Regions from separate parts of the Homo sapiens genome. Here region 2 is linked to region 1. The links come from fine-mapping of genetic effects on gene expression. Tissue or cell type: tibial nerve. Region 1 holds a variant in brackets; the other region holds the start of a gene. All regions are shown on one strand. Distances are between the middles of the regions.

Region 1 (8,000 bases):
TGGCCTTGCAAAGTGCTGGGATTACAGATATGAGCACACCCAGCCACCAAACTGCTTTCTAGCTGTGTGGCCTCACTTAGGTACATGGCCTCTGGAGCTACCACATTCCCCTTCCACAGCTGTCAAAATGAGACTATCTCAGAAAAGCACTCAGCACAGAGCCAGCCACCATGGCAAGCCCTCTATAAAGGCTGGCTAGCACTAACATTGCTATAGCTGTTATGAAAGGGTCCCATTAACGTTAAAGGGCACAGTGGGCAGGGGCTGTCACCATACAGGAGGTGAGCGTCACACTGAAGCCACCTGGCAGTTACCTCGGGGGCATGGTAGGAGATGCACTGGAAGATCCAGTCCATGGCAGGCGGGTACAAGGGGAGGTAAGATGGGAGCTCCACTCCTTGGACCACCAGCTGGTTCTGGACCGTATCCCCATGAATCTACAGGAGGCCAAACAAACACTTAGAAAAGGAGGGGAAAAACCAAACAACAAACAAAACATACACAACTCACAGACTGTGCATACTTGTAAGCATGTGGACAGCCCTGAGAGAAATAGCCTGGTTTCTCGGTTGTTTTTTTTTTTTAAACCAAAAAAAAACACAGAAAGTTTCTCATGTCACCAAGCCGAGCTGTTTTGGGAATGAGCGCTGTGGAAAGCAGGAACCTGATAAAAATGGAGCCAGCAGATGCTCAGAAGCAAGGCTGATCGACTGGAGACGTTTCCTGTTAACACATGCATATTAACTTTCTCCGCTTATTCAGTACAATCAACACATTTTAATTGTCTACAACAGAAGCTAGTGTAATTTTCCAGGGCTTGCACATTTAAAGAGCTTTAAGGCATTCTCCACTTGGAAAACCAACTGGGTTTTGTGAATTTGCTATCATAGAACTGTTATATCGATGAGCTATTCTGATAGTGTTCTCTTACCTGTTTGAACGTAAGGAGGAAGTCAAAAAAGTTCTTATTTAGGGTTTCTTTGAGATGTGGGGCCACTTCCATTCCCACCTGCAGCCAGACAAATGGAAAAACTGGTTGCAAATAATGACTATAGTATGATTTTATTTTTGGAAATTAAAAAATATATATACCTATGTTTATAGACACAGAAAAAGTCCAGAAAATTATTATTATTATTATTATTATTATTATTTTGAGATGGAGTCTCGCTCTGTTGCCAGGCTGGAGTGCGGTGGGTGCGATTTCAGCTGACTGCAACCACCGACTCCCTGGTTCAAGGGATTCTCCTGCCTCAGCCTCCCGAGTAGCTGGAATTACAGGCATGTGTCACCAGGCCTGGCTGATTTTTGTATTTTTAGTAGAGACAGGGTTTCACCACATTGGCCAGGATGGTCTTGATCTTCTGACCTCATGATCTGCCCACCCTGGCCTCTCAAAGTGCTGGGATTACAGGTGTGAGCCACAGCGCCCGGCCTATTTTTTTTTTCCTTATCTGTTTTTTGTTTTGTTTTGAGACAGAGTCTCGCTCTGTTGCCCAGGGTGGAGTGCAGTGGCACGATCTTGGCTCACTGCAACCTCCACCTCTCAGGTTCAAGCAATTCTCCTGCCTCAGCCTCCCAAGTAGCAGGGATTACAGGCATGTGTCACGACACTTGGCTAATTTTTGTATTTTTAGTAGAGACGGGGTTTCACCATGTTGGCCGGGCTGGTCTCCAACTCCTGACCTCAGATGATCTGCCTGCCTCGGCCTACCAAAGTGCTGGGATTACAGGTGTGAGCCACCACGCCCAGCCTGATTTCTTTTTCAATAAACATGTATTGCTTTTATAAGAAAGACCACAGAAGCTATTTTTAATAAAAAAGGGCAACATTTGCAGAAATCATCTTTGCCCTTCCCCAAAGGTATTGAATGTATTTCTGAACAGACGACCAAGAGAACAAATCAATACAGAACTAAAAAGGAATGTACTCTCAAGATTGTGCATACAATAAAAAAATGATAAACACACATGGGGTTGTACTTATTAGACCAAGCACAAAGATTACGGTACGTGAGAAAGTCAGCTTGAATTCCAGATGTGGTGCTGCCCCCGTTACATGCTTAGTTAAAAGCTATACAAATTCATTCTTTGCAAGGCAGAGATAAGAGCAGACATAAATTTTAATACATTTTATGCAATTTTATATAACATGAGCATGAAGTGTAACAATGCTATAATCCACTGGGTCCTGACTTCATTGTTAAAAAACAGACTGTAACATTTCTAGCTGAAGAAATTTACTAATCATAGAGAAGGTGCCAGTACTGGGGTTAGATGGAAAAGTAGAGGGATGAGCTACGGAGGGGAGTTCATAGGTTTAAAACACAACATCACAGTGTTTCTTAAACTGAGCTCCTCAGAAATGCTTCGTTTCCAAATTGCTGCTTAACCGCAAAAACAACTTCGTAGGCTGGGCTGCAGTGGCTCACACCTGTAATCCCAGCACTTTGGGAGGCCCAGGTGGGCCAATCACTTGAGGTTAGGAGTTTGAGACCAGCCTGGTCAACATGGTGAAACTCTTTCTGTACTAAAAACACAAAAATTAGCCGGGTGTGGTGGCGCACGCCTGTAGACCCAGCTACCTGGGAGGTTGAGGTGGGAGGATCGCTTGAACCCGGGAGGTGGTGGTTGCAGTGAGCAAGATTGTGCCACTGCACTCCAGCCTGGGCAACAAAGTGAGACTGGTTCCCTATTTCTTCAAATGGGGAGAGATTTCTCCCATTCACCTTCCACTACCCAGAGGTCATGATGGGTAACACTAATAATGTTTTTCAGATGGCATTTGAGAACCACCAGGGTGTTAAATTCCAAGAGCAGCTCTGTGATTGCTGGGTACAGGAAGTGCTGTTTTCAAGGACAAGCACATAGATTAAATATATATATATATGCTAACAAGAAATATCAGATCCAGTTCTACAGTGTTCTGATTCTCCTTCCACTTAATCATATTGTAGAAAAGACAATAATTATCTGTTAGGTGACAGCAAAGGCTGGCCTGGTGGCTGAGCCATGGAGATGAGCTGAAGCGGCTGTGAGTTAGGAGTTAATCATAC[C/A]TTCCTTTAATAACAGCTTCAAGCTCCCCCCACGCTCTACCCACTCAGAGCTTTTGTTTTCTGTTTTTCTCTTCTCATCGGGCCAAATGAGCAGCTTGGATATCTGCTTGGGTCTAAAAGATTTCTACCCAGAGCAGCAAGGGTATTGCTCATGATTCCCATCTGCTGTTTCGGCCTGCCCAGCATTCATCCCCCCCATTGCTGGTATCGGCAAATTAGATTTGTCTCTGGGGAATCAAACCTTCCTCTTGGACCATGAGGTTTGTGGTGGAGCTAGATCCACCTCACCCTGAGCTCCATGCAAGGGCATGTGACCCAGTCAGTAAGTACCCAGACACCAACCCCAGACCCCAACCCATGGCCACGTGACTAGTCTAGGGGTGGACAAACAACCCGAGGTAATCCACCAAGAATCAGCCCTGAGGCTCTGGCTAGATCTACTGGCAAGAAGACACACTTTCCAATAAGGTTCCTAAGGTGGTAGGATGGAAGCCAGAGGCCGCTATGGGCCATCATATAAAAAAAGCAAGCCACAGAATGAAGCCAACTCAAAGAACAGCAGAGCTGAGTGATGTGGGGAGAGGCTGATTCTTGACAGCACCCTTTGAGGGCCTGCATCCAGCCATGCCTGCACTAACCCTGGCCTCTCCAGACACTGGCCAGTAAGTTCTTACTTTTGCTTAAAGTAGTATGAACTGGGTTTTGCCACTTGGAACTGAAAGAAATCTTACTAATACACAGGCTGTCTCTTTTTGTTTGTTTGTTTGAGGCAGTCTTGCTCTGTCACCCAGGCTGGAGTGCAGTGGCGCGATCTTGGCTCACTGCAACCTCTGCCTCCTGGGTTCAAGTGATTCTCGTGCCTCAGCCTTCCGAGTAGCTGGGACTACAGGCGTGTACCACCACGCCCGGCTAATTTTTTGTATTTTTTAGTAGAGACAGGTTTTTGCCATGTTGGCCAGGTTGGTCTTGAACTCCTGACCTCAAGTGATCTGCCCGCCTCGGCCTCCCAAAATGCTGGGATTACAGGCATGAGCCACCGCGCTTGGTCTCTCTTACTCTTTTAATGTTAAAGAGACTTTTAGAAACTACCCAACCAGCGGAATCAATGCATTGCCTGGACTGACAAAAATGATTTCAACAGACGCAGGGCACTCTACTACCAATCTTGTGGGGGGTCTGCTCTGTCCTCTGCATCTTCTCCTCATTGTCACTGTGTTTCAAGTTGCATCTGCCATTCAAAGGCACTTTATATGTAACAAACATGATCGTGTACCCTAACTCACATACCTGATCTCAAACATTAAAAGGGAACAGGCTTGCAAAAAATACATACTTCCCCACATTCTGATTTCTCTTTAATAACCAGAATTATTTGCAGAAGAGACAGCATGATTCTAAGTCTTTATCACCGGGTCTCCGATATCAGGCCTTATTCAAATGATGTCAAGGTGTGTTCAAAGCATTTGCTATGTTCTACAAGGTAAAAGGCAGCAGAGAAGAAATACATAAACAAGGCTGGGCACGGGGGCTCACACCTGTAATCCCAGCAATTTGTGAGGCCGGGGAAGGCAGATTACCTGAAGTGAGGAGTTCAAGACCAGCCTAGCCAACATGGTGACACCCTGTCACTACTAAAAATACAAAAAGTAGCTGGGCATGGTGGCAGGTGCCTGTAATCCCAGCTACTCCGGAGGCTGAGACATGAGAATCGCTTGAACCCAGGAGGCAGAGGTTGCAGTGAGCTGAGATTGCACCACTGCACTCCAGCCTGGGCAACAGAGTGAGACTCTGGTGCAAAAAAACAAAACAAAACAAAACAAAACAAAAAAAGGCCGGGTGCAGTGGCTCATGCCTGCAAACCCAGCACTTTGAGAGGCCGGGGCAGGCGGATCATGAGGTCAAGAGATTGAGACCATCATGGCCAACATGGTGAAACCCCGTCTCTACTAAAAATACGAAAATTAGCTGGGCGTGGTAGCGCACACCTGGAGTCCCAGCTACTCGGGAGGCTGCAGCAGAAGAATTGCTTGAACCCTGGAGGCAGAGGTTAGAGCGAGCTGAGATCACACCACTGCACTCCAGCCGGGCGACAGAGTGAGACTCCATCTCAAAAAAAAAAAAAGGAAAAAGAAATATGCAAACAATATCTTTGCATCTCTCCCAGAGGATGTGGCATTGTGTTCTGTGCACAGTAGGGCCTCAGCAAACACTGACTTGGGAGGAGTATTCAAGCTTTAATATATTCAAAAGTTGTCCTTGGAAACACACCTGATATCTCTGGATGGAAAATCCCCCCCAGGTTTCAAGCAGTGGGCGATGCATACACACTTTGGCCTCTGCTGCAAAGAGGGAAGAGGATGCCCTTAAACGAAAGGCTTTTTCTTTCATTCTCAGTATCAAGAAACAGACCTATAAAAAGTGCCCTTCCTAATGGATATCTGCTCCTCACTCTGAGGGCACTGACTTAGTTTTTCGTGAAACTTGAGAGACCACAGGGCTTCCGACATTTGCTGGCTGTCATGCAGAAGAGGCAAATCACAGGCTACATGTTCTCGCCTTCTGATTTAATAAGGTGCAAACTCATGGGGGAGGCTCTAACTGCAGCTTTGTCCTCAAGGAAGTCTGGGGCTTATCAGGTGCAATGATCCCTCTCTAAGGATGTGCAATACTGATGGGACGATAGGGAAGATTCTCGTTGCTAGGGGGAGTCCTGACAGAGGCAAAGCCCCTGTGTGAGCTGAAGAAAACTATGGAGAGACCATATACTGGCCGGGCGCAGTGGCTCACGCCTGTAATCCCAGCACTTTGGGAGGCCAACGTGGGCAGATCACTTGAGGTCAGGAGTTCGAGACCAGCCTGGCCAACATGGTGAAACCCCATCTCTACTAAATATACAAAACTTAGACGGGCATGGTGGCGGACACCTGTAATCTCAGCTACCCAGGAGGCTGAGACAGGAGAATCATTTGAACCCAGGCGGTGGAGGTTGAAATGAGCCGAGATGGCGCCACTGCACTCCAGCCTGGGCGACACAGTAAGACTCCATCTCCAAAAAAAAGAAAGACCATATAACCTCCATTGGTTACATTTTTTCCATACACAAAAAACTTAATAGCTTAGCTGAAGCCTCACGGTGCTTTAAAGCAGGGCATGGGCAAGTAATTTCTAATCAGTCCCTCTACCCCCTTTCACAGCAGCCACCTAAGCCAGGCCACACAGACCCTGAGGCCTGCCATCATGTGGGACACTGCTCCCCTGCCAAGCAGAAAACTAATAAAGCAATCAAAGTCAAGACAAAGGAAGAGCATGTTTGAAGTCAATGAAAAGCAACCTGTTAGCCCAAAGGCCCTGGGAACCTCCTTCCCAGCAAGAACTGAGAAACAATTACTTCTGAAAACCAGTTCATTTGTAAGAAGATGACCTTAAACGTCCCCTAATTAGAGCTACAGTAAGTTGGTCTACTTTAAAATTAATTTTTAAAAGAAACCCTACAGTTCTACTTTCTGTGGCAGAGCCATGATCTAAAATTAGCCACTAATAAAGTCCTTCTCTCAATGACTTGCGGGGTGGTGGGGAAGGAGGGCCCTGTGTGAACATTCAAGGAGACGGGTGGCAGCCGTGCCGTCAAGGGCAGTGACTCGCATGGCCTACCCGGCACAGGTAGGCACGGGCATACACCGACACTAGTGGGTCTCCGATCCCTCTGATCATGCATGTCAACCGGGGCAGGCACTCTGAAATTCCCCTGCAAGAGACAAAAACAGGCCAGCATTATATTCGACGTGAGAACTCGCTGTTCTTTAATTTTTTAAATAAAGATAAAGACTTCCTAAATTTCAGGGAGGGGGGGAAAAATCAAGTTTCAGTAACAAACCAAGGTCAAAGTTTCAGTTTTCTAAGGCAATGTAACAACAGTCTTTCTCTTCTGATACAATTCATTCATTGAATGATTTCTTTCATCGTTATCATTTGCTCAGTGGTGGAGGCTAACCACATTTTTTCCCCAGTCGAGGTCACATTTATTTTATTAATTTTAACAGTTTTTGTCTTCAATTATTTTCCATCGACTGGGCACCCCTTGATCTTCTCTCCACATGTATTTTCGTTTGCCACAGATTTACTGTCCCGTACCCTGTTCCTTCCGTGAATCTCAGGCTGGCATCTGACATCCTCCAACCACCAACAATGTGAATTACAATTTATTTCTCCTGCAACGTATGTCTTCCCTCTGCCTAAGGCATTATCCTCCTCCAACTGGTGAGGCAAAATAATGTTTCTTCAGCCCCCATGTTATTCCCCCAAACTATTCCAGGCAACCCTAGATCCAAATCCAACACACTTGAGATAAATTCTAAATCCAATCGGTAGAGCTATCTGTGGAGCACCATGAATCAGTCACTCCCGGGCTTCAAGGAATTTATTATCTAGCTATCTAACATGACTCAGCATTTCACCTGCTCTGCAGAAAGCAGATCTGGGTCCCCCACGTCCTGTAACTACTCTCAAAACATTGTGATAAATTGAGTGGCATGGACCTAAGCCACTAAGGGCAAAGGCTTCTGCTTCTGACGTCATTTTCATCATCATCATCATCAACAGCAGCCAACATGGAGGATGGGCCCACCGTGTGCCAGGGGTGACTCTCATTGTTGCATGTGTGACCCAAAGGACCCCCTCAGACCTCTTCTTAGGGTCATGTTCCCAGGAGAGGGAGCCAGAGGTTCTGAGGCTGTAAGTAACTTGTTCAAGACCATACAGCTAGTACCAGTACAGCCAAGATTCAAATCCAGTTGAGCTGATCTTCCATGACCTCCTTAACCAACTTCTCCAGGCTTGAGTTTTCCTCTCTCTAATATGGGGATTAGGATGGTGTCTCTACTTCATTCAGTTTTCATTTGGATTCAATGAGAAAAAGAACAGAAGGTGCTTAACACACATTAAGTA
Region 2 (8,000 bases), 270 kb before region 1:
TGGCCTCAAGAAATCCTCCCACCTCAGTTTCCCAAAGTGCTGGATTATAGACATGAGTCATCATGCATGTCCAGCCTAAATTTAAATCAATTAAAAATAAATAAAACTGAGGCCGGGCTCGGTGGCTCACGCCTGTAATCCCAGCACTTGGGGAGGCCTGGGCAGGTGGGTCACCTGAGGTCGGGAATTCGAGACCAGACTGACCAACATGGTGAAACCCCATCTCTACTAAAAATACGAAAATTAGCCAGGCATGGTGGTGGACGCCTGTAATCCCAGCTACTCAGGAGGCTGAGGCAGGAGAATCACTTGAACCCAGGAGGTGGAGATTGCAGTGAGCCGAGATAGCGCCATTGTACTCCAGACTGGGTGACAGTGACTCCATCTAAAAAAAAACAAACAAACAAAAACTGAAAGTTCAATCCTGTAGTCATACAAGTCACATATAAAGTGCCTAGTGGGCACATGTTTAGCGGCTGCCATTATCAGACAGTGTAGATTGGACGGCACAGCACTGAGATACAGTCTTGTAGGGGAGACAGACACCAAGCAGAGAGCCATGCAAATATCTAATTACACACTGATATGGTTTGGCTGTGTCCCCACCCAAATCTCATCTTGAATTGTAGCTCCCATAATCCCTACATGTCATGGGAGGGACCTGGAGGGAGGTAATTGAATCATGGGGGTGGGTTTTTCCCATGCTGTTCTCATGATAGTGAATAAGTCTCACAAGATCTGATGGTTTAATAAAGGGCAGTTCCCCTGCACATGCACTCTTGCCTGCCACCATATAGCCACCATATAAGACGTGACTTTGCTCCTCTTTTGCCTTCTACCATGATTGTGAGGCCTACCCAGCCATGTGGAGCTTTGAGTCCATTAAATCTCTTTTTCTTTATAAATTACCCAGTCTTGGGTATTTCTTCATAGCAGTATGAAATTAATACACATACCATGACATTTGTCAGTGGGAAGCCATGGGCAGTGCACTGACCATTTCTCAGGTGAGGAATAGAGCCAGGGAAGCCACTGGTTTTCATTAGACAAAGTGAACTGGGCACTTGAGAGCCTGACATGGCTCCCTGGACCTCCTGGAGCCATTCTCTCCAAGGCTGGAGACCCAGTGAACTCTCCTGGGAGGTGAGGTTCCTCTGTGACAATGTCTGACCTGACAGCAAATGACACCAGTCTAACCATTGGTGGATAATATGGCCTGCAGAGCCAGATGGCCTGGATTGGATTTTGTCTTTGCCAACCGTCTAACCCCGGGGCAGTACTTAACCCCTCTTGGCCTCAGTGTCTCCATCTGTAAAACAGGGAGAATAACAGTCTCTGGCCTAAAGGGTAACTGGGAGGATTAAATGAATTAAAGAATTTAAAACACTTAGAATAGCTCCTGGCACACAGAAAGCACTATGTACTCAGCTATTATTGTTATTATTATCATCCATGGGTGTTTGAACTTTTTGGAGGGAAGGAATGCACCTGCCACTCAATGTCCTCCTTCATTTTCACTCTGTGCTCCCTGTGGTATCATCACCCAAAGTGAAACTGACCATCACAGTCAGGGTCCTCTGTAAAACAAGTGGGAAAGGGAATATAACCGTAACTGCAATGTTAATCAGCTCATATTAAGGATTTTCCACATGCCAGACCCTGCGTGAAGCACTTTATATGTTAGCACGTGTTAGACCTTCACAACAACCCCAATAGGCATGTGCGATGAAAAAGATCTCCATTTTGCAGACGTTGAGGACATGTGGCTCACGAAAGTGAACTTGCCCACGTTGACAAAAGGATCTCGGCGTCAGTTCCAAGAGCTGCCACCAGGTGACAGTGCCCATCCACTTTCCAATTGCGCAGTCTGGCGGGAACACACTTTGGGTCGTCCCGCAAACATTTAATGAGCGCCTACTGTGCCTGGAACTGTTCTGGGCTCTGAGGATCCATGCAAATAAACCAGGAGTGGGGCGAAAAACTGCCATTATGGTTCTTCCTTTCCATTTTCCCTTGAATATAATAAAAGGTATCCCAGAGATGCGTGCCCAAGGGGGATGTGGCCTAACCGGACCGGAACTGGGAGGCTGGCAGGGAGGGATGGGAGTATCTGGAAGGGCCACGGTCCCCAAAGATCAGGGGCTGCCACTATTCCCAGAAGGAGGTGTTCTGCATCTCCCCTTCCTGCAGCCCCCGGGAGAGGGGAGCAGGGGTCCGTCCTATCCCTTTTGGTCTTATGTGGCTGGGATGGTTGCGGCGACGGGGGTAGAGATTGGGGGGCGCACCGCGGAGGGAGAAAGGAAATCTCACCCTGAGAATCTGGAGTGCAGGGAAGGGATGCTGCTCAAAGGTCTGTTTCTGGCTTTGGCGGGGGGCCACCTGAGACTGCCAGGGTTTGATGGTCTGAAGGTCACCCAGGGAACCAGCCCCATATGGGGTGCCGGAGCGCAGCTCCCAGGCCTGGTCGAAGCAATGCGACCTCGGAGAGGCCTGAGGACTAGGACGGGGTGAGGGGGACTCAGAGACGGCTGCCCCGGACCCCTCCTTCAAGCAGGTCCCACGGCCGCCCAGCGGACACGCGTCCGGGCTGTGCCCTGACCGTCTGCGGAGCGCACGGCCAGTGGCCCGGGCCGCTGAGTGTGTGAGCCCTGAAGGGCAGTGGACATGTGCGTACGTGGGTGATGTGTGCGGTAGGGGTGGTGGCGATCCTGCGTAGGGACCCACGTGAGGGGTGCACCGACTGGACGTGTGTGTTTCGAGGGGCCAAGGAAGCGGGTGTTGGTCCCAGTGTGCGTAAACGGACAACGACATCTGGGAGTTGGGCAGTGAGGAGAGAGAAGAGTGTGTCCAGGAGGAACCTGCCTGGAGGAGGCCTAGCGGTGTGTGTGCGCCTAGGTGTATACCGGGGCGTTGGTGACTTCGAGAGGCACCGGGCGGGATCGATCCTCTCTGCGTCCTGGACCTGGTGCTGGTGTGTTTCGGGGAAGTTACTGCTTATGAACCCCCCTTGGAGCGTGGCCTGGGGGCAGGAAGGCTTCCGCGCTGGGACCCCTGGGTCGCGATACCTCCCTCGGTAAGTGTATTGGCTAGGGGAGTGTTCCCGCAAATGGATCTACCCTGGGGAGTTGCCCGGCTCGTCTGGACTGCTTACGGGCGCACTGACGTTGTGGGGGGAATGTCCCCGAATTGGGGGCACGAGGTCGGGGGAATCGTCTCTGAGATCCGGGCTAGAAGCTACGAGCTTGGGCTCCGGGGGTGCATGCAGACGGCGCCTAGCCCCGCGCGGAACCGCCGGCGGGACCGGGGGTGGGGCTCGGAGGCCCGGGGGCGGGGCCGGCCGGGGGCGGGGGCGGGGGCGGGGCCGCGGCCGCTGCAGCAGCGCGGGCCGGGCCAGGGGGCGCCTCGCGCGGCAGCGACTCTGGCAGGCGCTGCAGTGAAGCTGGACCCGCAGGCGGGCGTGCGTGGAGCGGGGGCCGCGGCCGCGCCGCAGAGATGTGACTCGGGCCGAAGGCCAGCTGGAGCGTCGGCGCTGCGGGGCCGCGGGGGTCGGTAAGTGCGAGCTGCGCCGATGCAGTGGAGGACGCTGTGGGGACCCCAGAAACTTTTCCCGCCGTGGATTTGGGAGAATTGGGGGGTCCGCTTCTTGTGTTTTTCTAAGCGCCCCCCCAACCCAAGCCAGGGAGTTTATTGCTGGGGGAGATGTGGAATCTGGGCGAGGGGAACCACGGTGCGACGAGAGCAGAGCCGTAGAGGGGTGGGCGGGGGAGGGGAGGATCTGGGGACCTTTACGGGGGGAGGGAGACTGTGCCCGGACCAGGTAGAGATCCAAGTCTCCCAGGAGGGTGTGGGGGCGACCACAGGTGAAGGGCAGCTGGGAGGGTAAAGGAGCCCAGCCGTGTCCTAGTGACTCGTCATGTGTGAGGAGCTGCGGGCTGGTCCTGGGGCCGCGTTGGGGGCTGACTGTGGACAGGGCAGACGCAGCCGGGGGCACAAGGGCTGGACTTTGGGGGTGAACAGCCGCACCTGTCGCGGGGGCTGGGGGTCAAGCCCGCAGCCGGCTTGAGTGCGCATTACTCAGCAAGGGGAGGGGGGGACACGGCGGTGGGAGATGGCAGAGCTGAGACCTGGGCTGGGGACGAATGACGGGGAGGGGTGGGGAGGAGGGGGCGGCTGCATACAATGGCGGGGGGGGCAGTGGCGTTTCCCTTCCAGACAGGGGGCACTTGGACCTCTGGAAGAGGCGGCTAGGCTGGAGATAAGGACTAGACCTGTTCTCGGTCCCCTCTCCTTGGGGGACACAGGCTTCCAGCCCCACAAGGACCCCACACATCCCGGGGTCCCTAGCGCTTAGGCCGAAAAGGGAGCGCGCGGGAGGAGCCCGCACCCGCCTTGGCCCCGGGCAGCCGGTTGAACAGCCTGGGAAGGGGCCAACGACCTTGCCCCAGAAATCTCCCCCGTGCAGCGGGTTCACTCCTCCGTCCTTGCTCTGTCACACCCAGGCCTAGCCAGTCCTCCCTTTCCGTCCCCCGTTCGCTAAGGGGGCGGCTCCTTGGAGCGCGGACAAAGGCCCCTGGAGTGTGGCGGGCAGCGGCGTCCCCGCCTGGGGCCCCAGCCCACGCGCCACATTGGCCGCCCAACTGCACCAGGCCGGGGGGCACCTGAACAGAGCCCAGAAAGCCCTGGGGGACCCCGCAAAGACAAGAGAAGTGGGGGAGGGATCTGGCACAAAAACCCCGGCACTTCAGCCAAGGAACCTTCTTAATTCAGAAGTTTCTTCGGTGGGGACTCGGGCTTGCGGAGGATCCAGGCTTTGAGTTAAACTGCATGCAAATGACATGTAAATAGAATGCAAATTGGCATCTGTCGTTTGGAAGCCCTCCCGGCCAGTTTGGTATCTAAGACTGTGGAGTGAACAGTTTGCTATCTGCTCCCTGCTCTAAGCCTGGAAAGGGGTCAGCTGAGTTGGGAAGGGAAGGAGATTCCAGGAGGAAGGAGCCGCCATTTGGGGGCACAGGCAGCAAGACAGGCAGTTTTGTTAGAAAGATAAACTCAGAATCTTTACTGGATTAATATGTTATTTCAAGAAACGTGCCAGGGACAGAACTGGGTGCCTTGTATAAAACGGACAAAACCCCTGCTCTCCCGGGGCTGGGGAAGTGAGTGGACAAACATTAAACAAACCCATAGCAAATGGCTATGAAATCCGATTGGGGTGAGGACGGCCAGGAAAATAAGATGGGGTGATGTAAAAGAAGGTGACAGGGGTGTATGTACCTGAGATGACTGTTCCGGGAGTGACATTTGAGTGGAGCCCAGCTAGAAGAGGGGCCCTCCGCTGGGAGGTCTTGGAGGAAGACTGAACCAGGAGGAAGGCACTGTGCCTGCAAAAGCTTGGAGGTGGGAATGAGCTTAGAGGAACTGAACAAAGGCCATTGTGGCTGGAGCTGTAGGCAGATTTGGGGGTGGGGATAGGGGAATGGTAGGGACCAGCCAGATCATGATCTTTTGGGTCATGGAAAGGAGTTTAGGGTTTATTCTGTTTGGACCAGTGAACCCTTGGAGGGTTTTGAGTGGGAGGCCATGGGATCTGATTTGTAGAAGCTCCCCTGACGTTGACAAGGAAATGGAAAATAGCCCCCCTTTCCATTCTGCCCATGGGGATAGAGAGACGCTGGGAGCCTCCAAGGGGCTCTGTCCAGCCTTGGGGGACCGCTTTGAGCCTAGCCAGCCACTGCAAGCCAACTGGAGGAGCAGCTCAGGTTTTAAAATCCACTCCCTGCTTTCATACAGTTTTTATCCACTCTAACGGAGCCCCCCGGAGCCCACGGCCCCGTAAGCACTTTCTCGCAGAGCTTCCTGGGGGTTCCGCTTAGTCACATTTTCTTCTCGGAATTACAGCCTGAGAGGAACCAACCACTGTGGATCGGGCAGCCAAGGATGCAATTTGCATTTCAATGATTGCTTTTATTTACAGGACTGGAGCTGCTTTGCATATTCATGGATCACAGAGCTTGTGTTCTTGCAACCCTGTTTACTAACCTATGAGGATTTTTTAATTTGAGAGCCCTCAAATGGGCCAGTGGTCTAGTCAGCATTGGGAAATGAAGATGATGAGATCCTGTAACTCGGAAAAGATATCAGAGGGTGAGAATTGGGGGTGTGGGAAAGAGCGGGTCTGAAGTCAGGAAACCTTGTAACAGTTTAATCCTGCAGAGCAGGAAATGGACCAGAGGCTCCAGCAGGAGTGAGTTGGGACAGACTATGATGCTGGGGTGCATGGGGATCTGGCTCTGCAGCCCCATCCTGAGCCTCTGCCACACGTGAGGGATTCAGAACAGGGATGCAGCAGAAACGCCTTGAGGTCAGGAGCTGGGAGAAATGGGGGCTAGTCCCAGGCCAGCCTGTAAATTCCAGTGAACCTCTGGCCAATTTTCCTGACGTCTCTGCCTTCATTTTCGCAACAGGAAAATGGGAATCATGATTGTCTTTCTTTTTTGAGACAGTTTAACTCTGTCGCCCAGGCTGGAGTGCAGTGGCGCAATCTCGGCTCACTGCTAACTCCGCCTCCCGGTTTCAAGAGATCCTCCTGCCTCAGCCTCCCAAGTATCTGGGATTACAGGTGTGCACCACCACGCCCGGCTTATTTTTGTATTTGTAATAGAGACAGGGTTTCACCATGTTGGCCAGGCTGGTTTCAAACTCCTGTCCTCAAGTGATCTGCCCACCCCAGCCTCCTAAAGTGCTGGGATTACAGGCATGAGCCACCGCGCCTGGCCATGATTGACTTTTTAACAAGCAATTCACTAAAAAGCTGTTGCTTCCTCTGTGTCGGGCACCAAACCTGACTTTTCTTTTCTTGTTGTATTTATTTATAATAGAGACAGTCTTGCTACGTTGCCCAGGCTGGTCTTGAACTCCCTTCCTCAAGCAATCTCCTGCCTCCCATAGTGCTGGGATTACAGGCATGAGCCATCACGCCTGGCCCAGACTATTTTTCACGTACTTCTCACACCAGCCTTGTAAGGCAGCGCTATCATTATCCCCATTTTACAGATGAAGAGACCGAGGTTCAGAGAGGTTAAGTAATGCCCAGTGTCATATAGCTCTGTCTGACTCCCCTCTTCTGGCCTGCCTCCCACTGAGGCCTTTCAGCCTGATGGGAGAGTGAACTGTGTACCCGTATTCATGTGGGTACTGGGCACTGAACTATTAAATATGCACAGGGCTCGGAAATCCACTCCCACCCCACCTGCTCATTTTGTCTTTCCCTTCTGTGTTCCAGTGCCTACCGCCATCTTTAGAGAAGGTAGGTTAAGATGCCACTGCCCTGCTAGACACTCGGAGGGGACATGGCTGGGGTCGAGGGGACATGGCTGGGGTCGAGGGGACACAGGGTGGAGCCGTGCTGGTAGCAGCTGGGGCAAGGCCAGTAAGAATGTTCTAGAATGGTTTTGTACATTTCATGTCTCCTTTCCCGTGAGTGAAAGGGAAGATGAGGATGCTGGTTCCCAAGAGAATGGCTGGTGTCTGCTCTCTGGGTGTCCTGGGTCTGACTCCGCAAGAGAGATGCCTGGTTTCAGGGCACCCCAAGGTCCTCTGGCCTAGGTTCTACCTCCACAGCGAGGCTCTCACTTACAGCACCTGCTGCAGGTTGCAGAAGAGTGTGGGAGTCCCCAGGGCCAACCACCCCAAGAGGGTCTCCCCTTCACACCACCTCAGGGACCTCTTTCGTTGATGTTTGATGGGGGAGGCTAGAAGCCAGCAGTGGACAAAAACCTAAACCAGTAATCTCATTACAACACATTCTTTTCTTATTTTATTTTATTTTATTTTATTTTATTTTATTTATAACAGAGACAGAGTCTTGCTATGTTGCCCAGGCTGGTCTTGAACTCCTGGCCTCAAGCAGTCTCCCACCTCAGCCTTCCAGAGTGCTGGGATTACAGGCATGAGCTTGGAAACCAGCGGTGGACAAATACCTAGGCGAGCCACCTCGTTAC

The links. PIP is the estimated chance that this variant, and not a neighbour inherited with it, causes the effect.
Region 2: it holds the start of GPRC5B, and the variant in region 1 is fine-mapped to the expression of GPRC5B in tibial nerve (GTEx, PIP above 0.99).

Annotation. Positions count from the first base shown.
Region 1 is chr16:19,609,123-19,617,122 of GRCh38, reverse strand. VPS35L (VPS35 endosomal protein sorting factor like) reads right to left here. Exons shown (of 31, transcript NM_020314.7): 12 at 6,708-6,801; 13 at 932-1,009; 14 at 315-437. Among named protein-coding and RNA genes, the nearest start is that of VPS35L, 57 kb to the right of the region's middle. RefSeq lists an enhancer at 6,702-7,901. The variant C/A (reference allele first, on the strand shown) is at 3,057.
Region 2 is chr16:19,880,276-19,888,275 of GRCh38, reverse strand. It overlaps GPRC5B (G protein-coupled receptor class C group 5 member B), which reads left to right and starts at 3,428. Exons shown (of 4, transcript NM_016235.3): 1 at 3,428-3,549. RefSeq lists a silencer at 2,875-3,169 and enhancers at 4,685-5,415, 5,416-6,145, 6,146-6,877, 6,878-7,607, 7,608-8,000.